Regions from separate parts of the Homo sapiens genome. Here region 2 is linked to region 1. A link means that fine-mapping ties the variant in region 1 to the plasma level of a protein whose gene starts in the linked region. Region 1 holds a variant in brackets. A gene starts in the other region. All regions are shown on their reverse strands. Region 1 holds the start of ARHGAP24 (Rho GTPase activating protein 24). Region 2 holds the start of MIA (MIA SH3 domain containing).

The links. A credible set is the group of variants that fine-mapping cannot tell apart. PIP is the chance, under the fine-mapping model, that this variant and not a neighbour inherited with it causes the effect. Protein levels are from antibody-based Olink assays in UK Biobank. Linkage for the fine-mapping came from a reference panel and not from the study's own genotypes, which makes the PIPs less certain.
Region 2: MIA starts here. The variant in region 1 is the best candidate, but not a certain one, in a credible set for the plasma level of the MIA protein (UK Biobank, PIP 0.89).

Annotation. Positions count from the first base shown.
Region 1 is chr4:85,465,525-85,480,818 of GRCh38, reverse strand. It overlaps ARHGAP24 (Rho GTPase activating protein 24), which reads right to left and starts at 5,669. Exons shown (of 10, transcript NM_001025616.3): 1 at 5,260-5,669. The variant G/A (reference allele first, on the strand shown) is at 8,672.
Region 2 is chr19:40,775,314-40,789,862 of GRCh38, reverse strand. It overlaps MIA (MIA SH3 domain containing), which reads right to left and starts at 14,342. Exons shown (of 4, transcript NM_006533.4): 1 at 14,194-14,342; 2 at 13,978-14,111; 3 at 12,784-12,894; 4 at 12,373-12,466. The coding sequence starts at 14,320. The coding sequence ends at 12,443. It overlaps RAB4B (RAB4B, member RAS oncogene family), which reads right to left and starts at 11,616. Exons shown (of 8, transcript NM_016154.5): 1 at 11,472-11,616; 2 at 9,764-9,844; 3 at 9,364-9,478; 4 at 6,023-6,085; 5 at 5,788-5,942; 6 at 3,103-3,198; 7 at 2,885-3,015. The coding sequence starts at 11,487. The coding sequence ends at 2,900. It overlaps MIA-RAB4B (MIA-RAB4B readthrough (NMD candidate)), which reads right to left and starts at 14,326. Exons shown (of 10, transcript NR_037775.1): 1 at 14,194-14,326; 2 at 13,978-14,111; 3 at 12,784-12,894; 4 at 9,764-9,844; 5 at 9,364-9,478; 6 at 6,023-6,085; 7 at 5,788-5,942; 8 at 3,103-3,198; 9 at 2,885-3,015. It overlaps RAB4B-EGLN2 (RAB4B-EGLN2 readthrough (NMD candidate)), which reads right to left and starts at 11,644. Exons shown (of 12, transcript NR_037791.1): 1 at 11,472-11,644; 2 at 9,764-9,844; 3 at 9,364-9,478; 4 at 6,023-6,085; 5 at 5,788-5,942; 6 at 3,103-3,198; 7 at 2,885-3,015. RefSeq lists enhancers at 10,014-10,545, 11,433-11,502 and silencers at 11,563-11,802, 12,353-12,482.

The sequences.
Region 1 (15,294 bases):
TACACATATTGAAAAGAACTCATGTTTGGCCTTAGTATCTACTTTCAAAGTTACTAAAATGTGATTTTTTTCCTACATTTTTTAAAAAATGTAGCATTTGGAAGAAAGGTCATTTTATCTATCAGGGATTATAAAAGCACTACAGAGAATGTTTCAAGGAACTACAAAAAATGACCTAGAAAACAATTATTGGTTCCAAAAAACTAAAGCCATACCATGCAAATTTATAAATATTTAACTAATTGTATCAAGAAAAAAACGTGATGTAACTATTCAATCTGTTTTCATCATGGATTTAACTTAGCTTAATTAGCTTAGTACACTTGTGGGTATCATAAGGGTATTAAAAGTGACAATAAGATGATGTGAACCATGTCATACAAAAAGCTTGACTGGCGTACAATTGAGCATCAAATTTAGTTCAGAGTTTTTTGGGTGACAAGTCAAACTGAGAAGCATGGTGAATTTTTAGCCTGTCTTTTTTCTAACCAAAAAAACCCACTAGTTAATCAGAAGAGATATACTTTAAAAAATTCCTAGCAGTCTAGGCAAAAAGGAATTTATCATGGAAATCCTTATATAAAGAATTTGAAACGCATAACATAAGGTGCCAAGATATTTCTTTCCTTTTCAGCTCATCTCTTTTATATTGACTCTCAGTAGTTAAAAAGGGGGGGTATCATATTAAAGCATAGTGTAATAAAGACATTTTGACATTTTAACAAAAAAGTATTGTAATGTGATTATAGTAAGTACATTTCCAGTTATGTAATTTGATATAGATAGAGAGTTTAGAAAACTTAGAGCAATTAGCGATTGGACTATTATTCTTAAATATCAGTGATAGTAGTTCCAGGCTTTTCAGAGATGCTGAATAAGGAGGAACTTGAGCTTTCAATCCCTGGCTATACCCTGAACCACACGTATGAATTCTTGATCAAAATACGTATTATCCACGTGCTAACTGGCAGTATGCACATGACAAAGGTAACATTGCTCTGAAAATAAAATAAGCCCATATGTATTTTAGTCTAAACAGTGTGTAAGCCCCTTTCTACATATTAGCAAAAATAACTGCAGACAAAGAATTTTTTTCAGGAAGAAACTTTGGATTTGCCTCAGTGCTCAAATGAGATGAAAGGAAAATCAATACAATAAAGAAACTATAACATGAAAGAAGCTGCCCCTCTAAATTTCCTCTTCTCCATCCAGCTCCACATTCTCCTTTAATTAATTTCCCTCAAGCACCAGCACTCCAGATAATTATTAAATAGCCAAAATTAGTGTTTCTATTTTATTTGATTAATTAAGACTATTGCCCATTCAATAAGCAGGATCTCCAAATTTAACTTCATTATTAGTCTTCACAGCCAAATCCAGGACCTCCCACTTGGATTTCACAGATTACAGATTTTATAGTACAATATAAAACACAGTTGTGGAAAATGTATATCTATTATAATTGTTTCTATTTTCTTTAAACTCAAGTGTATTTTGTGATGTCCAAAAGAAAAAGATGATTTCACAGTAGTTTTTGTTTGTTTTGCTTTTGCTTTAGATATGCAAAAGCACAATATTTCATCTATTATAGAGATTAAATAGGCATGTGTGGGGTGGTATGGAAAGTGGATTATGTTTTGTAGCATTGTTATATTTGGAAAATGAACTCTAAGACCAAATAGACATTTTTTAAATGGACTTCTGAGATATAACTATCTTCATAAGTTGGAGTGCACCAGTATTTCATTTATTGACGACTTCACTTGCCCACTTATTGGGGAAACATTAACAGATGTGTACTATGTTTCCAACACTGGGCTGGGGGCTTGAATTCAGGTGGCTCCCCCACCACCAATCTACCCAGTGAGGAACTCACAGTAGTTGTGAGAGAGGACAGGGGAAATACATAAAAATTATTGCAACAATTATTCAAAGTATGTTCAAAATGCTATAGAAGCAGACAAGATGAAATGATTAATTCTTCACGGAATTGGGTAAGTTTTCCCGAAGGAAGTTCCACTGGAAGTGAGCCACCAAGAATCAAGAGGGACTTTCAGACAGAAGGCATTCCAGGAGAATGAATCCATGAACCAGAGATCAGAAGCCTGAACAGTGAGGAGACCTTGTACACAAAGGGGGAGCTAAAAAGAAAGGGCTTGGAAGAGCTTTTAGAAACTATACTAAAGAGTTTAAATATTGTAAGTCATTGGAATCCAACAAAGGTTTTAGATAAAGAGACTTACACAGTTAGATCTGACTTTGTAAAGATTAACTGTAGCAATGCCACAGTGGAGTGTAGATGCTGCTTTTTTGCACAAATGTACACAATAACCACTGAAAACTGAATATTCTTTGATTCTTCATCACAATAATCCCTCCACTTCCAAATGTGCTTGTACTTAGCTGCTGAAGCCATCAGAACCTTGTAAAGTTTGAGTTTGTATAGCAAAGACAGATGGGTTACCATTGCGAGACTCGATGTGAGGCTTCCACTCTTCACATGAAGAACATTAACTTCATGGCTAAGCTGACCATTTAACAACTGTATTTTTAAATATCTTTCTGTATCTGGGAGAGATCTTAGTCCTTTAGCCATGGCTTTAAGAGCAAACAGGCATCGTTCCATTTTAAATATCTTCTGCTTTTTCCTCTATAAAATGTGATCAGTGAAGAATGGATGTCTCAGGCTCTTGTTATCACCAACCTCCTCCACACCCACATGTAACCAATTGGGTGGCTGTCCCTTGTTACTGGGCTCCAGACTGAGACTCTACCTACCTTCCCCATCTTGTTTTTCCAAAGCACCCACTTGTACCAGAAACTGAAACATGGCAGAAAGAAGGAATCAGCATGACATAGCTCAATTCATGAGAAAAGAACCCTTCACTGCTGGTCAGAAAATTCACAGGAAAATAACTACAAGCGACTAAGACGGTGCTACAGCACCACACACACTAAGAACAGGAAACAAACGCACGGCCTGAACTGTACAGTAGCACCGCTTGCTTTCAGCCCTGAGAAACCAACCCAGACTTTAATCGAGCCGGAAAGAAAACACTCGTCAATGGGCCAGTAGGTCACAGTGAAAATATTAAGGGAACTGTTGGTAAACACCAACAGGGCTTTGGCTAAGACAGCAAAGTAATCATACTCGGACTACTCATCACCACCTGTTGCACATTCCTCACCCTTCCTGCCCACTCCTTACCCTTCACCCTGCAGAGTCCAAGATCACACAGTAAATAAAACCATGATCCATGAAAGCTCTCAGAGCTTTGGCCATTACTATCCCCAGCAAAAGCTGAAAGGATTTCCCTGGGGATTTCACCCAAAAACACTTTTACACTTAAATCTATGTTCTAGTCTGGAAGAATGCATTGCCATTTGTTCTGCAGTGGATTTTTTTCTAGATAACTTAATTCTTTCCCACTTCTTATCAGGCTTATATTTTCAAAATAGTTCAGATTCAGGGTATGTAAGGCACAGAAGAATATTACAGAGAAACCACCTCATCTCAAATCCAAACCCCTGAGATGAAGTAATAAAACCAAGTAATATAGTTGAAAGCCAAGGACAGTCTGAGTTTCAACAGCCCCTCCACATGCAGAAAGAATTACCGATTATTTTTCCTAGTACCATACCTCTTTTATATTCCTTCCAAATACCTCAAACTAAATTCCAGATCTGAAAAACTCAGTTTATCTCTTATCCCCACTTAAAGGTCTTCCACCAAGAATATACTGCCTGTGAATGGTAGGATGTTATTTATTTCAGAGTTTTGTCAATATTTCCGTCCTCCAAGATGTCAAAGGTGAAGTCTCTGACCACTAAGTAATGGCTCTAGAGAGAACAGATTTCTGGACTTGCTACCTGAAGGCCAGGCAGTCAGGGAAGATAAAATGGTAACTTTTATTACTGAGCTCTCTTACAAGTTGAAATATGCCCAGAAAAGAGGAAGAATTAAGAAATTTAAAAGGGGGAGTGAGATCTTCACAAGTCTGATGTGACTTTATGGCTGTTTTCTGGCTTTTTCTAATACATACATTCTGTGTGTTTTATTTTACAATGCCCAGTTCAATAGCGTCATCCATTTTTGCCCTGAAGGATTGGTTTTGAGTTCTAATTGGAACTGGGGACAGATTGTTTGTATTTAATCCGTCTGTACATCTTCTACTCAGTAACTGAGTAAAGCTCTTAAACTCTACTGCAAATATCCCTGGATTCCAATGAATTTGTCTTACTTAGTAGACATAGCAACACATATTGTTTTATTTATGTATTTATGTATAAGCAAAGCCTTAACAACTTTTATATTCCAAATACTCAGCACGATTTATTTATTTCCTTTTTAGAAAGAGATGAAACAATGATGCCGTGGAAGGTTAAAAAAAGAGTAACATAAAATGTGCTGGAAACAGAAATTACTTGGAGAAATTACTTGTTTAATTCAAATGAATTAAACGAGATATAGTCTACAAAGAAGTCTGGGCTCCCTATTACTGGTTGATGCTGAAAATCTATCTAAGGAATTCAGAGTAACATTGTCTCCCTTCTATTTGGGTACGTATAAAATAAATGTAGTCTTAAGTATTTTCTAAAAACGAGACCATATTACATGTTTATCATTAAATGTTATTTTTAAAAACATTTGGACAAAATCTTTTGAGTGGCTTCAAATTCACCAAAGATTCCCTAACGTTTTGTGTTTACAAATATATGTATATATTTTATAATATATATTTCTAATATGTAATATATTTATAAATATTTTAAAACATATTTTATACATATAAAATATATATTTTTGCAAATATATATGCTTATTATTAAAACCTATCTTTGTGCGCCTGTTACATAGGGAACTCCTATAAGATACTAGAGGAAACAAACAAGGGGAAGGGGAGGATGGATACCAAGAGAGGAAATTGAATTGTACAAAGGGTTTTTATTAATTCCATCTATTTTTAAAGCCAGAAAGACATACTACCAGCTTGCTGTCTCCCGGCACAAACATGCGCGCGCGCGCACACACACACACAAACACAGACAGGCTACATCAGCACGGGATTCCTGCGATCCCTCCCCGCCCCCCGCAGCCCCCTCCCCGCCCCCCGCAGCCCCCTCCCCGCCCCCCGCAGCCCCCTCCCCGCCCCCCGCAGCCCCCTCCCCGCCCCCCGCAGCCCCCTCCCCTGGCGCAGGCAGCCGCGTCCGTCCTTCCCGCGGTAGCTCCGCGCACTTCCTCGCGACCGCATCACCTACCTTGCTGGGAGCTCAAGACAGATGCCGGACAGGGCTGCTGCTCCGAAGGAAAAGGCTCCCAGGACCAGCAGTAAGAAAACGCAAAGAAAAAAAGGTGGTAGTGAGGCTCCTTTACTTTCCACAACAAGGGGAAGTGTTGAACTCTATGCACTGGGCTGCTCCGCAGCGCGGGTTTCGGAGGAAATAGGCGGCCGAGAGAGCTGCGCCTGCGATGGGAAGTTGGGGGGATTCCCCCAGCCACCCAGCCACCCCCGCCAGGCTCCTCTCTGGTCCCCGCCGCAGCCTTGACAGCTCCCCTGGTCTCCGAGCCCCTCCAGAGCCCTGCTGGTTTCCACCCGGAGCTGGGCTGTGTTGCCACATGCACTTGAGAAATCCTAGCAGTTGCGCAAAGAGTCCCAGAAGTTAGAAAGGGTGATTGTGTGTGAATGTGTAAATATACAGTACAAGAGGCTGGAACAACTGAGTGGGGCCAACCCTCAGACACAGCTCGAGGTTTCAGATTTCATTTGGCAACTGGTAGCTTCACAGGACTCGAGCCGCACTACAGGGGAGGCCGGCAGGAGCCCCGCCCTCCCAAAGCCTGGGTTATCTGAGAGCTGGAGCTACACCGCCTGGCGCCACTGACAGAATGCGCCCTGCCTGGTTCCTCCGCATCTGGCATCGCTCGTTCCTTTCAAGTGCATCATAGATACTTGTTGGCCACAGATCTGGGGCTGTGGGCGCGAGAAGGTTGGTGAATACATGTCTCCTGCCCTCAAGGAGCTCTGCATTTCATTGGCCAAACCCCATACACCGGTTTTACTTGCTTCTACCAACTCTGTCTCGCTAACATTTTATTTCTCCAATTAGAATTACCTGGGCCATTAAAGCAATATTCCTGGAAATGCACATTTAGATGGATGCTCTCTAACTAGAGCCTTAGAGAAATTCAAAGTATAATTACTTTCTTACGGTGGTGTAAGAACTCTCGGAGTTACACAATATGGGACAAAAGGACAAACTAGTAAACATTGTTTTGATGCAGGCCGTCTCTTCCCACCATCACCACAATGTCTGTTTCAAATTGTGATCTTACAGTTCTGGTTACCTGGCATGCTGAGTCAAATTATTTCAAAAAGCTTTGTAAAGATCTCTGTTTTAGAAACCCACTTACAGTGGATCAGTCATGCAATCCTAGCACTTTGGAAGGCTGAGGCAGGAGGATCGCTTGAGCCCAGGGGTTTCAGACCAAAATTGGCAACATAATGAGACTCCTGTCTCTATAAAAAAAAAATTAAAAAAATAAAAAAAAAGTTGGGCGTGGCGGCGTATGTCTGTAGTCCCAGCTACTCAGGAGGCTGAAGCGGGAAAATCCCTTGAGCCCAGGAGGTCAAGGCTGCAGTGAGCTATAATTGTGCCAGCGCACTCCAGCCTAGGTGACGGAGTGACACCCCCGTCTCGAACAATTACTACTGCTACTACTAATAAAAGAAACTCTCTTTTAGAAATCATCACCAGATATCCTTAAGACACAGAATGGGGGTGTCCTCACTAGGGATCTCCAGTGAGAGAGGGATATGGAAGAAGAGCAAATGTTTAGTTTTAGAAACACCAAAAATAAAAGGCTGAGTGGACACTGATATGTTTTTCCTTTTTGTCCTCTTTCTCCAAGTTCTTGGAGAAACGAATCTACCCCATCCCATGCTGAGGTCCTACTATAAACTTGATTTTCTGGTGGGAGAATTCTCAGCCCTTTAATGAATCAAATTAATTTGTGTGGGGAAAAAATTGCGTTTCATATTTCATTTTAAAAATATGTATGGAATTCCTAAGCTAGAAGTAATGTAGCTTATTTTCCAATTGGTGGGAATAAATTACCTTCATCAACCCACATGGCCTTACATGTTCTAGCAACACCCTAGCAGGTGAATGCTGATGGGCAGTTTCAGATGAAAGCTGGAAAATAACATTAACCCAAATGAAATTTGCACACATTTGATGGACTCAAAAGCCTCAGGAAGACAAGTACCAATAATTATGATTCAAGATGGGGACATTTAAAAAAACAAGGAAACTGTCATGTCAGTAATTTATTTCAGGGTCTAACAAATATTACCACAGCAGTTTAGTCTCAAAGTGATACAAAACTGAACTCAGGGTGGTTACTGGGTAGTCCCTAGTCCAAAAGATTAAGACACACCTCTAATACACACACAGGCTGTGTTCAAGGCCTTTTCCTTCCCATCTTCTGGTTCTGTCTCCACCCTTTCCAACTGATAGCACTTCATTGGTGTGTGTGATATATGTGATTATCTTAAGCTAGAAAGTACAACAGAAGGAGAGGATGGTTGTCACTTGGGGATTAGACAGTTGAGAGGATAGGAAAGGAGTTATATCCACCAATACAAGCCCCTTCTTCCCCTCCTACTTAGAAAGAGGTGGACCATTGCATTCCTTTTCTAGAAGCCCCTCAGCAAGGAGTCTGTTCCAAGAGAATATAACCTGAACTAGAAACTGCGTTGTTTTCTGGCCTCTGACTATACTGCTCCTCTCTTATTGTAGATTAGTTGGGACCAAGAGACATTCCTTATACGTATTGTGGCATCTTTAAAGGAGAGAATAAACTCTTGAACAAGACCCTTGAAACCTGATTCTAATCAGAGGAGAATGCTGATGTGACTGATACAGACTCCAGGGAGGTGGTGCCTGACATTCAGCTCACTGGATCTCTGCTCAGAACTTGCCCAGAGGGTTACTTAAAGCTGAGTTTTATCAGTCAACCTCAATTCTGAGTTAAAGGTGTGCTTCAAACAAACTCTACAAAACCCAGAAATGATTCAAGGATAAGGGCTAACTTTCCAGGATCTTCAGGTCCTAGACACCTTCAGGAAAAAAGTCTATGAAAGGTCAGTATAATGGCAGGCAGAGTTTGAAGGACTTCAGTGTTTACAGGAAGGATGTATAATACTTTAGGACCGGGGGATTCCAGAGATCTAGAAATGAAAGCAGAGGAGGAGAGAAGGAAGATAATGGCTATACTACATCTGGACAAGTTGTTTGAGTGTTGGTATTGCCAGAGTCAAGGAAAGAAACCCCCTCCATAGACAAAGCCCCCTGGACACTGATTCTATCAGGCCATTCTTTCAATGGAATTTAGTTAGGGAAACCTCAGCCAGTGTTTCTACAATTACTTTGTCTAATATTTAAAGTATATGGGTCAAATGTTACTATTAAATGAGTATGGATTAAAATGTATTTTAATGTACTTCACTAACTTAAAAATTGCAAAGTTTTTCACCAGATTCCATGTCAGATTCTTTGAAAACCTTAGCATAGAGTGATTCATTGTCATATTACCCAATTGTCCATTAATATCAGATACTGAAGCTTTTTAATTACATTTTCTTTTAAGAAAACATAAATTCCTAAGAGG[G/A]CAAAAAACACAGTAACAAAACTGAATAGTCAAGAATTGCCAAAATCCTAACATTTTCAACAAGCTCTCACCAACAATGCAGAATTTGTGTGGGTACTGGGATTTGCCAACATCTGATTTCAGGATTCAGATAGAAGGCTATGCCTTTTAAAGCATGTCTGTTTCTAAACATCTGTTCTTGTTTTTTCTTTTTATTTCCTGGTAGAAGTTTCTTTTCTACAAAGTCCAGCTTTGTCTGAATTACTAAGTAAGGTGGAAAGAGATTAAGGGAGCTTTGTGCCCACCCTCTCCAACACTTTGGATCACATGATTCAGGGAAAGATGTATTATTATTGTTAAAATGGTGGGGAAGGATCAATCCAGCTAAATACCTGTAAATAAGATAATAAAGGAGAGAAAGAGCATGATAGAAAAATAAGCTGTGGCCATGGGTCATCCATGGCCTCTATAATTCCAACACATGCCTTCTAACAGTCAACAGCTTTATAAATGAAACACATTATGTGCCCATTCAGATCCTGAGAGGAGTGTGGTATCAACCGTCACCACACTTTCTTTGAATTGACATATTTTTGGGTCACACTCTTTCATCTACCAGACCCCCAAAGTAGATGGTTCCAAAAATATCAATGATTAAATTTACTTTCTAAGTACTGTCTATTGGTTTTTGTCTAATTACAAAATTAATTAGTTCAACTCATGAAACTTGGAAGCTACAGAGAAGCTTAAAAGAAGAGATTTAAAACTGCCCATGATCTCCCCACTTAGAGATAAGTAATAACATTTTGAATATGTTGAATAAGTCCAATTGTTTTTTTTACCTCTGTGTATGTGCCTATTTTGTATAATGATTTGGATCATGTTACTAACCAAAGCAAGATCCTTTTGGCCTGGGCCCAAATTCAAACCTTAGTTTCCAATCAAGATGTTCCTTTTTGAGACAGTGTCTCACTCTGTCCACGGGCTGGAGTGCAATGGCCCCATCTCAATTCAATGCAGCCTCAACCTCCCAGGCTCAAGGGATCCTCCCACCTCAGCTTCCTGAGTAGGTGGGACCACAGGCACGCACCACAAAGCGTACATAATTTTTAATTTATTTTGTAGAGATGGAGTCTCCACAAGTTACCCAGGTCTCAAACTTCTGGGCTCAAGCGTCCTCCTGTCTCGGTCTGCCAAAGTGCTGGGCTTACAGGCATAAGTCACTGCTCCCGGTCTCAGAATGCTTCTTTTTATGCTGTTTAAACCTAACTTCAGGAATTTGCTGGATTCTGTTAAAGAATTAATCTCGGCCGGGCGCGGTGGCTCATGCCTGTAATCCCAGCACTTTGGGAGGCCGAGACGGGCGGATCACGAGGTCAGGAGATTGAGACCGTCCTGGCAAACACGGTGAAACCCCCTGTCTACTAAAAATACAAAAAATTAGCCGGGCGTGGTGGCGGGCGCCTGTAGTCCCAGCTACTTGGGAGGCTGAGGCAACAGAATGGCGTGAACCTGGGAGGCGGAGAGATCGCACCTCTGCACTCCAGTCTAGGTGACAGAGCGAGACTCCATCTCAAAAAAAAAAAAAAAAAAAGAATCTCTCGCTTTCATGATATGCAGATTTTTCTCCAATCAGCTCCCAGAGAAACTTTCTGCTTTATACCTGCTGTGGTCATTTCTAAATCCCTTACTAGTCTAGAATTTCCTTGTGCTTTGCTGACTCACAATTTCTCTAAGACAACCTTTAATATGCAGTCATTCACATTTTAGCTCACCACATTCTCTATCCTTTCTCTACTCCCTTATAAGTACAGGCATATGTGTGTGCACGCACACACACACACCATGAACATTCATATCACACATGCATACTCATAAAGTGAAATATTTCTCCAGACATGCAATTGTTCACTTATGGACTCAACTCTTAGTGTAATACTGAATGACATTTAAAATATTTAGAAATCTAATTGCACCTGAGCAGCAACAAAGTGGGCTTACTCTGACTACACATGCCATTTTGTAGATTTCAAGCATGTTCACATTTTGGAATCTTTTCTTTTCAGTTTTTTAGAAAATTAAATACTGCCATTGAAATAACACCATTCTTCTCCCAAGAATCATTATATAGTATTCCTAAGTTACATGTGTGACTTTTAAAATAGCTTCCTATTCCCTTATACTCAGGATAATAGAAAGCAAGTTACCAATAGGTTCTTCACATTCATAATTCATGTTTCTAATTGCATTGTCATGTATATTCCAAACCTTATCATCTGTCTGGGAAATCCTCATTTCGTCCTATTTTCATCATATCCCAAGCTCTTTAAATAATGGATTTTTTTGGCATCAGTTCCATTCTTTCCCTCTCTCCATTGCCTGCTTTATCTCATCTCAGATAATTTAAAATTAAAGAGAAGAACATTTACCTCATTGTACATTCTTACCCCACTGATAAAAGAATACACAGTCAAGATACAAATCTAAGCTGTTAAAACTGTTAAAGAACTCAGATCCCAGGCATAACTGATCCCATTGTTGATCAAACGTTAGATTTGATCAATATTTGGATTGCTGACTAGAAAATTGGAGCTGAGGTCATTGTTTTAAGTCATCTAAAACCAACTAGATTGTCAAGAAGATTAAAATGTTTTATTGTTATAGAGTGCAGACAGGACCATCAACTTACTCAATTATCTTCCGTAAAAACTAGATAAGAGAGTGTAAATGAATCAATATAACTCATCCAAACATATTAATAATGATAATAATAAAATAAGAAGAATATTCCTTATGGTTATTAATGTGCCTTTCCCATATGTGGTCTTTATTGCAGCAGCTATGAGAAATTTATCCTTATTTTCACTTTGCAGAAGAGAGAACAAAGAGAAACATTGTATATATCTTATTCACAATCATATAAGCTAATAAATGATGGAGAAAAGATTTGAATTTAGGCTATTCAAGTACAAAGTCTGGATTCTTTTCACTGATGTATCAGCAACAGCATCTCCCTATGCAAATAGAGACAGCACAATTTCCCTTTCATATATCACTTATATTGGCCAAGTGTTTGAAAATAATTATTATTACATTATTTTGTGAGGAGGAAGATTGTTGTTCTCCTACAGACCAATTTTAAATCCCACTTAAAGTATTAATTTTAATGTCCTACACTATCAGATCCTTTATTCAAGTTACTAACCAATAGCAAAATTAACTGTTCTTCTTCTTATTCCAACCAGTAGCAAAATTAACTGTTTTTTTCTTCGTGCTCACCATCTGTGAGAGGTGCTAATGGACAGTGAATTGGCCAAAAAGCCAAGGGGAGTATCAGCAAGTGGAATAGTAAGTGGTTCGGATAATTCATGAACTTGAAAATTAGTCCCTCAATACTGAGTGTTGTATTCAAAATCTTAAAACTAAGATCTTGAAGGGAAACTAAAATAAAAATTTTGAAATTATAAGCTTGGTTTTTTAAGACATAGTAAAGATAGGCTGAGGCTGATTATGTAAGAAGTAGTGTTGGGGATAACTAGTTCCTTAATATTTGAAAAATGACCAAACATAAACTTCCTGGAAAATCAATAAAAATAATGGAATTTTTGAAAGATTTTCAAAATAAACTAGGAGGATATTCCAAGAAGATAAATGTTAAAGGAAAGTTCAAGATGTGGGCTATTATGCAGATAAAATAGGACTACAAAATTATTGTCCTCTCCTTTTCTTTTCTTTTCTTTTCCCGAGTTTGTGTTTGAAAATGAGAGCAAGCAAGCTTTGTGAAGGCTTACTTTGCAAGAATGGCGAGCTTAGGCCGGATTGTAAGATGAGACTCAACTGGGGCTCAGGCTGGGGAGGGCAAATGGTAGCATTTCTAAATGCTGAGCAGTTTGTCTTGATGTCTTCAATGGAAGACTTTCTTCAACCTTGTGTACTTTACTCAAGAATAGACAGGTGAGTAAAAGAGGCTTCTAAATGGTGATCATGAGGAATAGTAGTCCCAAGAGTTGGAAATGGAGGCTCTTGAACTTCAGCCTAAGACACTGATGCATTTTAAAGAAAAATAGTCCTTTTGGATAGGACATTAGATGATTCCATTCAAATGTTCTCTGACTCAAACTGGGGGAAAATAATTCCAAATTCAAGAAAGGGAACTGTGGCTCGGTGTAGTGTTGCTGTAGTCCCCACTACTTGGGAGGCTGAGGTGGGAGGATCACTGGAATGCAAGAGTTTGAGGCTGCAGTGAGCTATGATTGTACCACTGCACTCCAGCCTGGGTGACAGAGTGAGACCCTGTTTCTTAAAAAAAAAGAAAAGAAAGAAAAGGGATTGAAAAATCAAAGGACAGAGAATGAGACCACCTTTTGGGTAACCTAATAATTTTAATAGTGTTATAGAGAAAGCTTCTCTGAACTGGGTTGGGGCATGGCAGTGCCCAGCATCTGTAGAAGCAATCAGCAGCAAGATCAATCCCAGCTGTTCCTTCAGGTTCAATCCTGCTGCAGGTGAGGGCTATGAGGTAAGGGAGCAGATAGCAGCACTGAGATCTGTGATGACTTCCAGGGAGAAGACATAAGCTACTCAGTACTCTGTGAGAGAAAGCTTAATTGGATGGGGATTTCCATCATTCCTGCTAGTTGGAGACTTGGAGCTTAAAGTCTAAAGCCTAGACTTTAACCAGTTCATACACATTCATTATTAAGGTAAAGTTCTCCCATATTCCTGTTTAAGGTTTTTTAAACTTCTGTCAATACTCAAGTACTATCACAAAGAATTAGAAGCACATAGGGGAAGTAGTTAAGCCCAATAATGGTAATTTCATAAAGCAGAAGCATATTGGGAGAAATTAGCAAATTCAGGAAAGTAGCTGGTTGTCATATACAGAGATGCCTCACTTACACAGGCACAAAAGTGTGTAATACCTCCTAAATGTGAGGCCCAGCGCTAGATGCAAAGTCAATTCAGATTTGTCTGTGTTTTCAAGAAATTTACATTCAATCATTAAGAATGGGTGAACAAAAAAGATTTAAAGTGAATTTTCCATTTTCCTCTAAGGTAATGCAGAAACGATGTTGCAATATGAACATTTATTCTTAGCTAACATCTAGCCTCTGAAAGTTACTAGCATCATTTTCACAGCAAACAAAAGACTTACTTCTTATACGGTAATGTTATATCATTATTTTAGACAGACTCCAGCTAAGACTTTAAACAGTATGTGAAGATATTTTGACATATTTTACATTTTTGCTCATTTGTTGTTTCAATTATCAACACATTGCTATAAAAACCAGAAGACAATGGCATAGTTAATATGAAAATTTCCCATGTAGGTTTTTCTTGGCATCCATTGCACAGAATCTCTGGTTTTGAACTGTGCAATTAAGAAAAAAACACTCTTTTATAAGTAAAGACGGAAATCTAATGATAGTATCAAATCTTCCGAAAATCAGTTTACAAACATTAAAATAATTTCTGGATTGAGCATTCCACTAAGAAAGCCTAACACAACAACAAAAATCTTTTATTTTAACATTGAGCTTTAATTGCTTATATTGCCACACTTATTTCAGCCAAAAGGTGACAAGATATATAGAAATATAATTTGTAGGCTTAAAAGTGATTCAGAAGTTGTTTATTTTTTCTACTTCTCCTTTGCTTTTGGGGGTGATTGTTGTAAACACTTCAATTTCATTGGGTCTTAATAAAATTAATTGTATAAATCAAATATTTAAGATTAAGTGCCTTATAATGTATAAATTGATTTATTAACCCCTCATAAAGAGTGCCCCATTGGATTTTTAAAAAATATTTAGAATCAAATGGTTACTTAAATAATAAATTTTGCACATGAAGAATCTATTAATTTAAAATTTTTGAGAATAAGGATTTATGTTAATTTTTACATGTAAAGAAAAATACAATGATAGTAAAATTGTTCTTTATAGTGAAAAATGCCAACTGTAGAACTAACATGCTTATCTGAATTTAACCTTGTCTATGTTCAGTTTCTTTTAAAAGGTTATCATATTCACAGGTTATTTAAAATAATCTCTAAACATAAAGTCCAAGAGGCCAAAAATTAAATATTGTTAATATGAGTATATTGTTAATTAAACTGTGTTACACTCATGTTGATTTTATAAGAACTGGTTACATTTCCTAGGAACTATCATTATGTATAATCTACACAGATAAACCCATTAATAGTAAAAGTTTGCATTTGCAGTTCATCGAGGTAGATTAGTGGCCTATGGTTGCATTTTTTATTTAATAACTACAGGGATTCCCCACTGAAAATTGCCTTTTCCAAGGTGAGCACACTGTTCTCAAATGTAAACTAATAGTCTATAAACACATAGCTTTGTAACAACCTAGGAAGCTATGACAGATTTATGTAATAACTTCTTCTTATACTGCTAATGAGCTTTAGCAAGTCAACTTATGGGTGTTTATCAGAACTTTGTGTAGGTTTTGAGCAGTCATGAGACTTTAACATAAAAAATGAATTATTTATTTAAAAGGCTACAATTAAAAGATCAATATGTGATCCACATTGAATGATGTTTACTAATATCATTGGTCATTTCTGAGCTCAATAAAGATTTATTTACTATATGAAATGCCTTTTAATTACTCTACAT
Region 2 (14,549 bases), not on the chromosome of region 1:
CTTCACTCAAATGTCATCTTCTCAGCGAGGCTTCCCTCCTCATCTTGTTTAAATGTACACTCTTGGCCAGGTGCGGTGGCTGACGCCTGTAATCCCAGCACTTTGGGAGGCTGAGGTGGGCGGATCACGAGGTCAAGAGATCGAGACCAACCTGGCCAACATGGTGAAATGTCTCTACTAAAAATACAAAAATTAGCTGGGCATGGTGGCACGCACCTATAGTCCCAGCTACTCGGGAGACTGAGGCAGGAGAATTGCTTGAACCCAGGAGGCAGAGGTTGCAGTGAGCCGAGATCGTGCCACTGCACTCTAGCATGGCGACAGAGTGAGACTCTGTCTCAAAAAAAAAAAAAAAAAAAAAGGCTGGGCGTGGTGGCTCCCGCCTGTAATCCCAGCACTTTGGGAGGCTGAGGCGGGCAGATCACCTGAGGTCGGGAGTTCCAGACCAGCCTGACCAACACGGAGAAACCCCGTCTCTACTAAAAATACAAAATTAGCTGGGTGTGGTGGCACATGCCTGTAATCCCAGCTACTCAGGAGACTGAGGCAGGAGAATTGCTTGAACCTAGGAGGCAGAGGTTGCGGTGAGCTGAGATCGCGCCATTGCACTCCAGCCTGGGCAACAAGAGTGAAACTCCATCTCAGAAAAAAAAAAAAGTACATTCTTGGCCGGGCGCAGTGGCTCACGCCTGTAATCTCAACATTTTAGTAGGCCAAGAGTGGGTGGATCACTTGAGGTCAGGAGTTTGATACCAGCCTGGCCAACATGATGAAACCCTGTGTCGGCCAGGTGCGGTGGCTCACACTGTAATCCCGGCACTTTGAGAGGCCGAGGCGGGCAGATCACAAGGTCAAGAGATCGAGACCAGCCTGGCCAATATGGTAAAACCCCATCTCTACTAAATACATAAAAATTAGCCAGGCGTGGTGGCGGGCGCCTGTAGTTCCAGCTACTCAGGAGGCTGAGGCAACTTGAACTCAGGAGGCAGAAGTTGCAGTGAACCAAGATCGTGCCACTGCACTCTAGCCTGGGCAACAGAGCAAGACTCCATCTCAAAAAAAAAAAAAAAAAAAAAAAGAAACCCTGTCTCTATAAAAATTAAAAAAAATTAGCCAGGCATGGTGGTAGTCGCCTGTAATCTCAGCTACTCGGGAGGCTGAGGCAGGAGAATCACTTGAACCCAGGAGGCGGAGGTTTCAGTGAGCCGAGATCACGCCACAGCACTCCATCCTGGGTAACAGAGCAATACCCCATCTCAAAGAAAAAAAAAAAAGTACACTCCTCCACCCTATCCACTCATCTGTGCCTGTTTTATTTTTCCCCATAGTTCTTACCTCCCTCACTACTACATACTTTACTTTTTTTTTTTTTTTTTTTTTTAAGAGTCTCGCTCTGTCACCCAGGCTGGAATGCAGTGGCGCATGGTCACAGCTCACTGCAGCCTCGAACACCTGGACTCAAGCCATCCTCCCACCTCAGCCTCCCAAGTAGCTGGGACTCCAGGTGCACACCACCACGCCTCGCTAATTTTAAAAAACTTTTTGTGGAGATAAGGTTGCTTTGTTGCCCAGCCTGGTCTCAAAGTGATCTTCCCATCTCACCCTGCCAAAGTGCTGGGATTACAGGTGTGAGCCACTGCGCCCAGTCGACTTACATCTCTTGTTTATCACCTGTCTCCCCCAAAGAGAATGTCAGCACCATGAGGATGGGAGTCTGTTGTACTCCCTGCCATATCCCCAGTGCCTTGAGCAGGGCCTGGCACACAGCAGGCGCTCAATAAATCGCTGGAGAACTATGAATGGGAGGGTCAAGGTCTAGGGCAGGAAGCTGGCCTGGGGCTGCAGGTGGATTCCCTGTGGCCTGGCAGATGTCTCTTTTTTTTTTTTTTTTTTTTTTTTTTGAGACAGAGTCTTGCTCTGTCGCCCAGGCTGGAATGCAGTGGCTGAATCTTGGCTCACTGCACCCTCAGCTTCCTGGGTTCAAGTGATTCTCCTGCCTCAGTCTCCCAAGTAGCTGGGACTATAGGCATGTACCACCATGCCTGGCTAATTTTTGTATTTTTAGTAGAGGAGGGGTTTCACCACGTTGGCCAGGCTGGTCTAGAACTCCTGACCTTATGTATACCCCCCATCAAATGCAACCCCTCTGCCTGTGTCCCCTCATCCCACCTGACCCCTCTGCCTCTGCCTGCCCTATCCCACCCTGATCCCTCTGCCTGTGCCCTGACCCTGGCCCTGACCCCCCTGGGCCTCTCCCCTGCTGGCTCTGACCCCTCTCCCCCAGTGCCTCCCCATCTGGTCCTGACCTTTCTTTCTTTTTTTTTTTTGAGACAAAGTCTTGCTCTTGTCACCCAGGCTGGAGTGCAATGGTGTGATCTCAGCTCACTGCAACCTCCACCTCCCAGGTTCAAGTGATTCTCCTGCCTCAACTTCCCGAGTAGCTGGGATTACAGGCACCTGCCACCACGCCCAGCTAATTTTTGTATGTTTAGTAGAGAGGGGGCTTCACCATGTTGGCCAGGCTGGTCTCGAACTCCTGACCTCAGGTCATCCGCCCGCCTCGGCCTTCCAAAGTACAGGGATTACAGGCATAAGCCACCGAGCCAGGCCTGGCCCTGACCTTTCTGAGCTGTCACTGTCTGGAAGTGGGTCTGTCTCCCCACCCCCACCCAATGAACTGCCTCCGCCCGCCTCGGACTCCCAAAGTGCTAAGATTACAGGCGTGAGCCACTGCGCCCAGCCAGATGCCTCCTTTAGCTTGTGTGTTTTTGCATCTTTCTCTCACTCTGTTTCTCTTGTCATCACATGTTCAGTGTCTATCTCCACACCATCTCCCCCATGCCCAAGAGGCCGCCCTGCCTCCCTAAAGCCCCCAGTGTCCCACCTGGCTCCACAGAGCTCAGCAGCCACACGGCTGAGGGGCCACGGCCTGGGCACTCCGAGGCTGCCGAAGCTGGCGGAGGGACGCATCCCCGTACTGAATGCCAGAGCCCATCCTCTCCGGGTCTAGCTCGCCTGTGGGGAAGGGGAGAGGTCAGCATTGGTTGCCTGGAGACCCCCGGGCCTGCCCTTCGCTCCCACTCGGGCCGGTCGGGGCCTCACCTGAGTCAATCTTGTTGAGGATAGTGCGGGCACACTTGAGGAACGCCTCCTCCACGTTCTCGCCTGTGAGAGCGCTGGTCTCCAGGAACATCAGCTCTGCAGGGGCACACACTCTGAGGTCAGGGCCCCAGTTAGTCCCCACCCTCCACTGAGCTCTCACCTGCTGACTCTCATCCTGTTCCTCCAATGTTCCATCCCCCCTTACCCTCACCTCAGGCCTCTGCGCATGCCATTTCCCTGCCACTAATGTCCGCTTCCCGATATGCCCACCCAGCTCTTCCTTCAGAGCTCAGCTCACACAGCTCCTCCTCCAAGAAGTCCTCCCTGACTTCCTGGGCTGAGTCAGGTACCGACTTAGGGCTCCCACAGCTTCTTGTGGCCCCCTATCCTGGCCCTGACCCCACTGCTTGTGCTTCCTCATCCTGGCCCCAACCCTCTGCCTGGGTCCCCATCCCACCCCTGACCCTTCTGCCTGGGCCTGCCCCATTCCTTTCCTGACCCTTCTGCCTGGACCTGCCCCATTCCACCCCTGACCCTTCTGCCTAGGCCTGCCCCATTCCACCCCTGAGCCCTCTGCCCATGCTCCCCCATCCCATGCAACCGCTCTGCCTGTGCCTCCCAAACTTGGCCTTGACCCCTCTACCTGGGCCCCCCATCCCACCCCAACCCCTCTGCCCTTGCCCCCCATCCCATGTAACTCCTCTGCCTGTGTCCCCTCATCCCAACTGACCCCTCTGCCTCTGCCTGCCCTATCCCAGCCCTGACCCCTCTGCCTGTGTTCTCCATCCCACCCCGATCCCTCTGCCTGCCCCCCCAGTACTGGCCCTGACCCTCTGGGGCTCTCCCCTGCTGGCTCTGACCCCTGTCTCCCGGTGCTTCACCATCAAGCCCTGACCTTCCTGAGGTGTCACTGTCTGGAAGTGGGTCTGTCCTTCCACCCTCACCCACTGAACTGTGAGCTCCATGAAGGTTGGGCCTAGGGCTGTCTCCAACACTGTGTCTCTAGCACCATCTAGGACAGGAACAGGCCAACCAGAGTCTACCCATCAGCAGCATGACAAGGCCCCACAGTCAGAAAATCAGAGCTGAATTCACACCCACACCTCTCTGATGGCAAAACCTCCTTTAAACCTGGAGGTTGCAAAACAGGGGAACACAGGCAGATCTCAAGCCACCAGATGTGGGTGGTTTGGCCAACACAATGTTTTCAAATGAGTTTATACTTGCAAACCTTTTTTGTTTTTTTCTTTGAGACAAAGTCTCTCTCTGTCCCCCAGGCTGGAGTGCAGTGGTGTGATTGCAGATCACTGCAGCCTCGAACTTCTGGGCACAAGTGATCCTCCTGCCTCAACCTCCTGAGTACCCCAGACCACAGGCACATACCACCACACCCAGGCTTTTTTTTTTTTTTTTTTTTTGTAGAGGCAGGGTCTCACTCTGTTACACAGGCTGGTCTAAAACTCCTGATCTCAAGTGATGCTCCTACCTTGGCCTCCCAAAATGCTGGGATTACAGGTGTGAGCCATTGTGGTTGGCCCTTGCAAACCTTTTGGTGTGGGTTGTCAGTATGCTGCACTCCCCTTAACACCAGTACCTGTTACTCAAGGATCTACCCCATCCCATCTCCTGTATTCAAAAATGTGCCTTTCACCGGGCGCAGTGTCTCACGCCTGTAATCCCAGTACTTTGGGAGGCCGAGGCAGTCGGATCACAAGGTCAGGAGTTCGAGATCAGCCTGGCCAATATGGTGAAACCCCGTCTCTACTAAAAATATAAAAATTAGCCAGGCGTTGTGGCGCACACCTGTAGTCCCAGCTACTCGGGAGGCTGAGGCAGAAGTTGCAGTGAGCCGAGATTGCGCCACTATACTCCAGCCTGGGCAACAGAACAAGACTCCGTCTCAGAAAAAAAAAAAAAAAAGTGCCTTTCACCTAGGGCCATCTAGGGTTGCAATCTCTACATTAAACCAATACCCAGGAAGGTGCGGTAGGAGGAAAAAATAAATAAAATAATTAATTTAAAAAACCAATACCCTGTGCGGCCTCCTGACGGTAGGCGAAACCTTAGCGGCCAACATTAATCTAGCACCCACTCTGTGGCGGGTGCTAAGGACTTTCCACAATCTCCCTTAATCATCACAGCACACTGTGGGGCAGAAACACTGTGATCCCACTTTCCAGATGAAGAAACTGAGAACCAGTGTAATCACATAGCTCACTGATGGCAACACTTAGTTTTGTTGTTGTTTTGTTGTTGTTGTTGTTTTTGGAGACAGTGTCTTGCTCTGTCTCCCAGACTGGAGTACAATGGCGTGATCACAGCTCACTGCAGTCTTAAACTCTCAGGCTCAGGTGATCCTCCTGCCTCAGCCTCCACTGTAGCTGGGACTACAGCCATGAGCCACCACACCCAGCTAATTTTTTAAATTTTTTATAGAGATAGGATCTCACTGTGTTGTCCAGGCTGGTCTCAAACTCCTGGGCTCAAGCAGTCCTCCCACCTTGGCCTCCCAAACTGCTGGGATTACAGGTGTGAGCCACTACACCCAGCCAACACTCAAATTTGAACCCAGACTTCTGAACCTCCACGTTCCCCTGCTGGGTACAGCCACTGAGAGCCAGTAAACCCATGGTCCCTGTGGACTGTCCACCCCCACCACCACCTGGTCCACGACACAGCCCTCACCATTCTCCTGGGCAAAGCGGGAGGCCTCCAGGAAAGTGACCTCCCGCTCAGGGTCCAGGTCCTTCTTGTTGCCACAGAGGATGACCACGATGTTGGGGCTGGCCAGGGTGCGGGCATCCGTCAGCCAGGCAGCCAGTGAGTTGTATGTCTCCCGGCTGTGGAGAAGGGAGAAGGGAGGGAGGCAGTGCAGGAGAGGAACCACCCATGCCCTACCCCACCCACCCCGGGCACCCACCTGGTGATGTCGTACACCAGCAGGGCTCCAGCCGCCCCTCGGTAATAACTCCGCGTCACTGACCTGTGGGGCCAGGGGGACCCAGTCACCCCCAAGGCTGGGGTCTGCCCCGAGAATGCCCCCCTCTACAGAGACAGACTGGTGGTTCGGAGGCCCCCCCCTTCACTGCTGGCCCATCCCCCAAAACCTGGCCTTGGTCGGGTCACCATGCAATTCCTCTCTCTTCTTGCATCCTTGAAGTCCCTCTCTCTTCGCCTCTCTCAGCTTCTATCTCACTTAGCTGGCCAGCTGTCTCTATTTATGAATCTCCATTTTTGTCTCTCCCTGTGTCCCTATCTTTCCATTCGTCTGTTTTTCTCTCTGTGTCTCTTTCATGTGTGTCTTATTTTTTATTTTTTTGATGGTCTTGCTCTGTAGCCCAGGCTGGAGTGCAGTGGTACGATCTTGGCTCACTGCATCCTCGACCTCCTAGGCTCAGTATCCCAACGGAGAGATCCTCCCACCTCAGCCTATGTAGTGTCTGGGACTACAAGTGTGCACCACCACACCTGGCTAATTTCTTAATATTTTTTGTAAAGATGGGGCTTTGCTAGGTTGCCGAGGCTGGTCTCCAACTCCTGGGCTCAAGTGATTCTCCTGCCTTAACCTATGTGTCTTTTTCCTTTTTCTTTTTTTTTTTTTTTTTTTTTTTTTGAGTAGGAATCTCACTCTTGTCTCCCAGGCTGGGGTGCAGTGGCATGATCTCGGCTCACTGCAACCACTGCAACCTCCACCTCCCGGGTTCAAGTGATTCTCCCACCTCAGCCTCTCGAGTAGCCAGGATTACAGATGCACGCCACCACATCAGGCTAATTTTTGTATTTTTAGTAGAGATGGGGTTGGCCATGTTGGCCAGTCTGATCTCGAACCCCTGAGCTCAAGTGATCCGCCCACCTTGGCCTCCCAAAGTGTTGGGATTACAGGCGTGAGCCACTGTGCCCGGCCCTACATGTCTTTTATTGATTGATTGATTGATTGATTGACTGATTGAGATGGAGTTTTGCTCTGTCGCCCAGGCTGAAGTGCAGTGGCGTGATCTTGGCTCACTGCAACCTTTGCCCCCCGGATGCAAGTGATTCTCCTGCCTCAGCCTCCCAAGTAGCTGGGATTACAGGCATGCACCACCACGCCCGGCTAATTTTTGTATTTTTAGTAGAGATGGGGTTTCGCCATGTTGGCCAGTGTGGTATTGAACTCCTGACCTCAAGTGATCTGCCCGCCTAGGCCTCCCAAAGTGCTGGGATTACAGGCGTGAGCCACCGTGCCTGGCCCTATTTAATTCCCTATTTCTGTCTTTTTTGTTTGTTTGTTTCATCTCTGTGGCTCTCTCATGCTTACCTTTGCCTTCCCATGCATTTGTGCATTCATTCATTCAACATTTTCTGAGCAAATCTCCCCTTTGCCTGGCCCTGCCCAAGCACTATACAACATCTGCTTATCCTTCTCCTGCTGTGTCAGGTGGAGTCTCCTTCCCAGTGTAGCCAATTCTGCATTCTCTGTCTCACCAGTCTGGGTCCTTCTGGAACTCATGCAATCATTCCACAGCATTTACTAAGCACTCACCGTAAACCTAGCCCATGCTACACACCTGTCTATCCTTCAGCCCCTCTCTCTGCCTTTGGGCTCTGTGCACCTCAGGCAGTTAATCCATACGCAAGAATTAACTCAGCAGCTACTAGATGCTGCCATAGATCACACTTTTCCGTGGACTGAATTCCCTCTATTTCTCTCCCTGCTCTCTGTTTCTCCGACTCTCCTAAGGTTTTTTTTTTTTTTTTTTTGAAACGGAGCCTAGCTCTGTCGCCCAGGCTGGAGTGCAGTGGCGCGATCTGGGCTCACTGCAAGCTCCGCCTTCTGGGTTCATGCCATTCTCCTGCCTCAGCCTCCCAAGTAGCTGGGACTTCCAGCGTCTGCCACCACACCCAGCTAATTTTTTGTATTTTTAGTAGAGACGGGGTTTCACCATGTTAGCCAGGATGGTCTCGATCTCCTGACCTCGTGATCCGCCCGCCTCGGCCTCCCAAAATGCTGGAATTACAGGCATGAGCCACCACGCCCGGCCTCTCCTAAGGTTTCTATGTGTCTATCAACTTTTCTGCTCTGCAGGCATTTCCTGAAGACCTACAGTGTGTTGAGCCCTACGCATTTCTCTCTCTCTCTCTCCCACAACACGTCCATTTCTCCATCTCTCTTTTGGAAAGATGGGATTTCACAATGTTGCCCAGGCTGGTCTCAAACTCCTGGACTCAAGCGGTTCTCCTGCCTTGGCGTGTGTGTCTTCAGTTCCCTATTTCTCACTGTCTCTCTTTCTGTTCCATCTCTGTGGCTCTCATGCTCACCCTTGCCTTCCCGTAAATTCGTGCATTCATTCATTCAACGTCCAACTACACCTGTCTGACTCACCCTGTCTCCCTCTCTGCCTCTGACCTCTGTTTCTCTGTGTCTCCTCACCTCCCTTATTTATTTATTTATTTATTTATTTATTTATTCATTTATTTATTTATTTATTTATTCAGAGACAGAGTCTCGCTCTGTCACCCCGGCTGGGGTGCAGTGGTGCGATCTTGACTCACTACAACTTCTGCCTCCCAGGTTCAAGCAATTCTCCTGCCTCAGCCTCCCAAGTAGCTAGCATCCACCACCACAGCCTGGCTACATTTTTTGATTTTTTTTTTTTTTTTTTTTTTTTAGTAGAGACACGGTTTCACCATATTGGCAGGCTGGTCTTGAACTCCTGACTTCAAGTGATCCACCTGCCTCAGCCTCCCACAGTGCTGGGATTATAGGTGTAAGCCACCGTGCCAGGCCTCCTTACCTCCCTTATCATTCTCTTCAACTCTCTTAGTCTCTGTCTCTCTTGCTCTTTTCCTTTCTGAGTGTGAGTCTCTCAAGTTTCCCCTTCTCTTTCTGTTTCGGTGTCTCTCAGTCTCCATCCCTTTCCCCACCCCCAAGCCACTTTTCTCTATCTCTTTTTCTTTCTTTGAGATGGGGTCTCACTATGTTGCCCAGGCTGGTCTCAAACTCCTGGGCTCAGGCAATCTTCCCACCATGGCCTCCCAAAGCACGGGGATTACCGGCATGAGCCATTGCGCCTGGCCCCTACCTCTTTTTCTTCCACCATCTCTTTATCTCTCCAGTACTCCCTCTCTCCTTGGATATATATACCTGCTAACTACGGTGTCTCATCTCTCTCTGTCTGCCTTGTCTGCCCTCTCAGTGTCTCCAAGTGACTCTACACACACATCTCTCTCTTTCCTTCTCACTCTCTCTCCCCATCACCCTTGGGAGCCCAGCCCACCTACCGAAACCGCTCCTGGCCAGCCGTGTCCCAAATCTGTAGCTTCACAGTCTTCCCACCCACGTTGACCACCCGGGATCCAAACTCCACGCCGATTGTGTGGTTGGAGTCCTGTTTGACTGGGAGTAGGAGGAACAGAAGGGGCAGTACAGGGAGAGAGGAGACAGCTCAGAGGATCCCCCATCCTCCAAGGCCCTCTCAGTCTCTACAAACCCATTCTCCTTGCTGGAGTGACTTGAGGTCAAGGAGAACCTAGTAAAGGACATACGACAAAGCAAGGACCAAAAAGCCAGCACTGGACTTGTACCTATGGCCAGCCCTGCCCTCCCCACCGGCTGCCCACCAGCCCACACCATGCGCATAAACACAGCTCAGGGTTCCCAGGACCACTGCGGGAAACTCACACTTATTCTCAATGAACTGATGAAGGAGACATGATTTGCCAGTTCCTGCACTGCCAATCACCAGGAATTTGAAGAGGAAGTCTGACCAGATGGAGCCAAAATCAGGGATACCCACAGGGAGAGAAAGATACAGGGAAAAAAGATGGATTCCAATCCAATCTCTCTCTCTAACCATCACAGTTAGAGGGAGAGAAACAGACATAGGCAGAAACAAACCAATAGGTAACAGTAACAGATAACTCTTATGTAGTACTTGCCATGTGCCAGGCACATTCTATATATTTTTTTTCAACTTTTATTTTAGATTCAGGGAGTACATGTGCAGGGGTTTTTTTGTCGTTGTTTTTGTTTTTTTGAGACAGAGTTTCACTTTTCGTTGCCCAGGCTGGAGTGCAATGGCGCGATCTCGGCTCACCGCAACCTCCACCTCCCAGGTTCAAGCAATTCTCCTGCCTCAGCCTCCCGAGTAGCTGGGATTACAGGCATGCGCCACCACACTCAGCTAATTCTGTATTTTTAGTAGAGACGGGGTTTCTCCATGTTGGTCAGGCTGGTCTCAAACTCCCGACCTCAGGTGATCCGCCTGCCTCAGCCTCCCAAAGTGCTGGGATTACAGGCATGAGCCACCGCGCCCAGCCCACATGTGCAGGTTTGTTACATGGGTCAATTGTGTGTTGTTGTGGGCCAGGAACAGTTCTAAAGGTCTTTACTCACATCAACAGCTCACATCATCCTCAGGAAAACTCTATGAGGGAGGTAGACTAAAAATTATTCCCATTTTCCGGATGAGGTAACAGGCCAGAAAGGTTAACTGACTTGCCCAAAGTGACACAGCTGGGCAGAAGTGAGATTCAAACCTAGGCCAAGGGCTCCAGAGTCCCAGATCTTAGCTATTTTGTCGCTAAAGTCTCTTGAAAGCTATTTAAACAAGGACTACGATATAGCCCTTGTTCCTCTTCACCTCCTACCACCCTCTGACTCATTCACTCCACTATAGCTCCTGACCTTCAGTCTATTCCCTGAAAATGACAAGCTGGTTCTCACCTCAGGGTCTTTGCACTCTTCTCCCTTCTCTTCTATATTTGTTGAGTGAATGCGGCTCCCTCTGACTCCTAAACCTGCACTTCCCCTGCCTCCAATCACCACCTCCTATGGTGCATCCCTACTGATTTTCCACTTCCCGACCTCTCCTTCCCTCCCTCTGCCCAGAACCCGGCTCCATTCTCATGCATAAGTCCCACCCTTTGCCACTAAGTCCTGCCCCTAACTCAAGGACAGCCCATCCCCAAACCCATTCCAGAGCTCTCTCCAGCCAGATCAGCCCCAGGGTCCCGAGCTTCCATTCAGTGTTCCCTCTAGCCCATAAGCCCGACTCCTGCCATTCATGCAGTCAGCCCCGCCCCTTCACTCAGGCTCCGCCCAGATCCATTAAGGCCCACCTCTTCCCTCAGGGCCTCCCTGAACCCCTCAGGACCAGCTCCCTCAAATCCCGCCCCAGATCTATTTAACCCACGCACCAGACCCTCAGGCTCCACCTAAATCGATTAAGCTCAGCCTCAGACCCACTAAACCCCTCCCAGCATCCACTTAGGTCCTGCCTCCATCACACCAGACCCCGCCCCCTGATCTACAAAGCCCCGCCCATTCCCACAGGCCGCATCCTCCCTGGGCCCAGACCCAGGACCCCAGCTTCGTCCACCACCCTCACCGTAGGTCTCAGCCATGACTCGGTCGCGGCCGCTGAGGGCCGCAATATGGCGCCGCGGCCGCGCCTGCTCCTCGGCTGGCAGCCGCTCCACTCCGGCTACAGCCCCGGCTCCTTCCTACTCCCCGGGCCCGGCACCGCCACTTCCGCCTCCGCCCCCCTCCGGCGCGACCCGCTCCGGCAGCTGGATACCAGGCGACGCTTTCCGAAGGGCGGGATTGGCGGACTCGCGGGCAGGGGGCGGGACAAGAGGCGCGGATTGGTGGCGTGAGAAGGACCAAGCCCAAAGGGGCGGGGCCGAGCCCAGCGATTGGCTGAGCAAGTGGGAAGGGACGTGCAGAGCTGCTTAGCTGAGCCGAGGAACGGATTTAGTCTGGAGTACGGGGGGCAGAGTCGAGTCTCCGGATTGGATCGGAGCGGACTTGGGGGAGGGGATACAAATGCAAAGAAGGGGGCACGGGCAGGATTGACAGAAAGAGGCTGGAAGAGGAGCTGATCTTGAGCTGGCGGGAGCGATTACTGTTCTCAAAGGCGAAAAGGAGGAAAACTGGGCAGATAGGCGCAGGTTACTTCCCACCTCCCTTTCCAGATAATCTTCCAAGAAAACCTTTACTGTGCGATTTATATCCTCCGCGTAGTCCGATTGGCTCCCTCCCACTGGTCTAGAGAGGACACTACAATCCCCTAGTTGGGCTGCTTAGGTTTTCCTTTGCTTGTGTCCGAAACCTAAGCTTAGGAGCGCTCCTACTGCACAGGGCTTTCATCAGTGAAACTCTGCCTAGCAACCACTGACGTTACCACAGGCAGCGGGTTAATTGGTTAGATTCAGCAACCTAGAGAAACATTTCATTTGTACAGTCCCCACCCTACCCTACCCCACCCCAAAGACCACGGAGACGAGCCGTTTGCACTGGGCTGATTGTATTTGCATAAAGCCAAGGAGGGGAAACGGCAGGGCCAGCGGTAGGCTGAGCTCACTGGCAGTAGAAATCCCATTTCTGAAAAAGAGAAAGGGGAAACAGTGGAAAGAAAACCAGCGGTCACACCACAAAGGATCTAGTGGTTTTAGCAAAGGCTGCAGCTGCAGGGCCCAGGTCTGGCCACACAAGTGCTATGCAAATTAGCCTAGAGCCCTCTAATCTTTGCACCTCCCAACTGGACCCATTTTACTGGTGAGAAAATTGAGGCAGGGAAAGAATTTCTCCCAGCGCACATACCTAGGCTGCCAGGGAGCCAAGTGTGGGAGCATTTTTGCCCATCCCCACAACCTAAGGGTCCTCCCCCCACATTTCTTGCCAGCCCCCATGACACTCACGTCTGTCTTCACATCGACTTTGCCAGGTTTCAGGGTCTGGTCCTCTCGGACAATGCTACTGGGGAAATAGCCCAGGCGAGCAGCCAGATCTCCATAGTAATCTCCCTGAACCTGGGGAAGAGGAGTTAAAAGCTAGGGTCTGGGAAGATGGCAAGCTTGTGCCTGCTGAAGGCCTTTGCATTCTCCCTTCTCCCTGATCTCCACATAACTGCTCCATCCTTGTCATATGAATCTCAGCTTAAATGCCACCTGTTCAGAGGCCCTTTCTGAACACCCAAGTAAGTCTCTGTTAATTCTCACAGCAGCGCATATTTGCTTTTATTATTATTATTATTTTGGAAACAGGGTCTCATTGTGTCGCCCAGGTTGAGGTGCAGTAGCATGATCACGGCTCACTGCAGCCTCAACTTCTGGGATCAAGCAATCCTCCCACCTCAGCCTCCCGAGTAGCCGGGACCACAGACACATGCCATGAAGCCCAGTTAATTTTAAATTTTTTTTTATAGAGATGGGGGTCTTGCTATGTTGCCCAGGCTGGTCTCGAACTCCTGGGCTCAAGCTATCCTCCCAACTTGGCCTTACTTGGGATTACAGGTGTGAGCTACTGTGCCCGGCTGCTGCTATTTTTTATGCCTTGCTTTTTGTTCATTTCCCTCCATTAGAATAAAAAGGATCATTTGTTGTTGTATCTTGGTGTCTAGAACAGAACGTGGGACCATATCAGGTCCTAAAATTGGTAAATAAAGTGAAAATAGGCTGGGGGGCAGTGGCTCACACCTGTAATCCCAGCACTCCGGGAGGCCAAGGCGGGCAGATCATGAGGTCAGGAGTTCAAGACCAGCCTGGCCAATATGGTAAAACCCTGTCTCTACTAAAAATACAAAAATTAGCCAGGTGTGGTGGTGCATGCCTGTAATCCCAGGTACTTGGGAGGCTGAGGCAGGAGAATCGCTTAAACCCAAGAGGTGGAGGTTACAGTGAGCCGAGATCGTGCCATTGCACTCCAGCCTGGGTGACAGAGCAAGACTCTGTCTCGGAAAAAATTAAAAAATAATAAGCAAATAAAATAAAGTAAGTAACAATATCCCCCCACAATGTCTATTTCAGTTCACCCCCCTCAAATCTTCCCTTCATGGGGATAATGAGTCTACCCCAGCTCTGTACCCTTCCCTCTTTCACTCTCCCAAGACTCACGCTGCCTCCCCAGAAGAGCCGCCCACGGCCCTTCAGCTTGGAGAAGACATACACCACTTGGCCCCGGTGAATGGTCAGGAATCGGCAGTCGGGGGCCATGTAGTCCTGAAGGGCCACAGCCATGGAGATAGGGTCTAGGGAAGGAATAGAAGGGAATGCAGCACCCTCCACACAGGCTAACGCCCAAGCCCCCAATTCTCCCCTCCCCATTCTTACGGCTGCACTCCTGGTCCGCACACAGCTTCCGGTCAGCCAGCTTGGGCATAGGACCACCCCTGACACCAGGTCCGGAGAAGGCAGACAGCAAGATGATGACACCAAGGCACACCAGGGACCGGGCCATCGTGGACTGTGAGCAAGAGAGTGAGCAAGGGGGTGCTGGGGTCTCCAATTTCCTCCCCTCCCTCTCTCCCGTAGTACAAGGAAACTTGTGTTCTTGGTCTTGTCCCCGCCCTAAACCAGTCCCAAACTTCGCCCACACCACCTAGAAGTTGCTATGAAACCAGAACCATTTCAAGGATAGGGTAAAGGCTGTAAGCCCAAGGAAATTCCCAGATAAGGTCCAAAGCAGC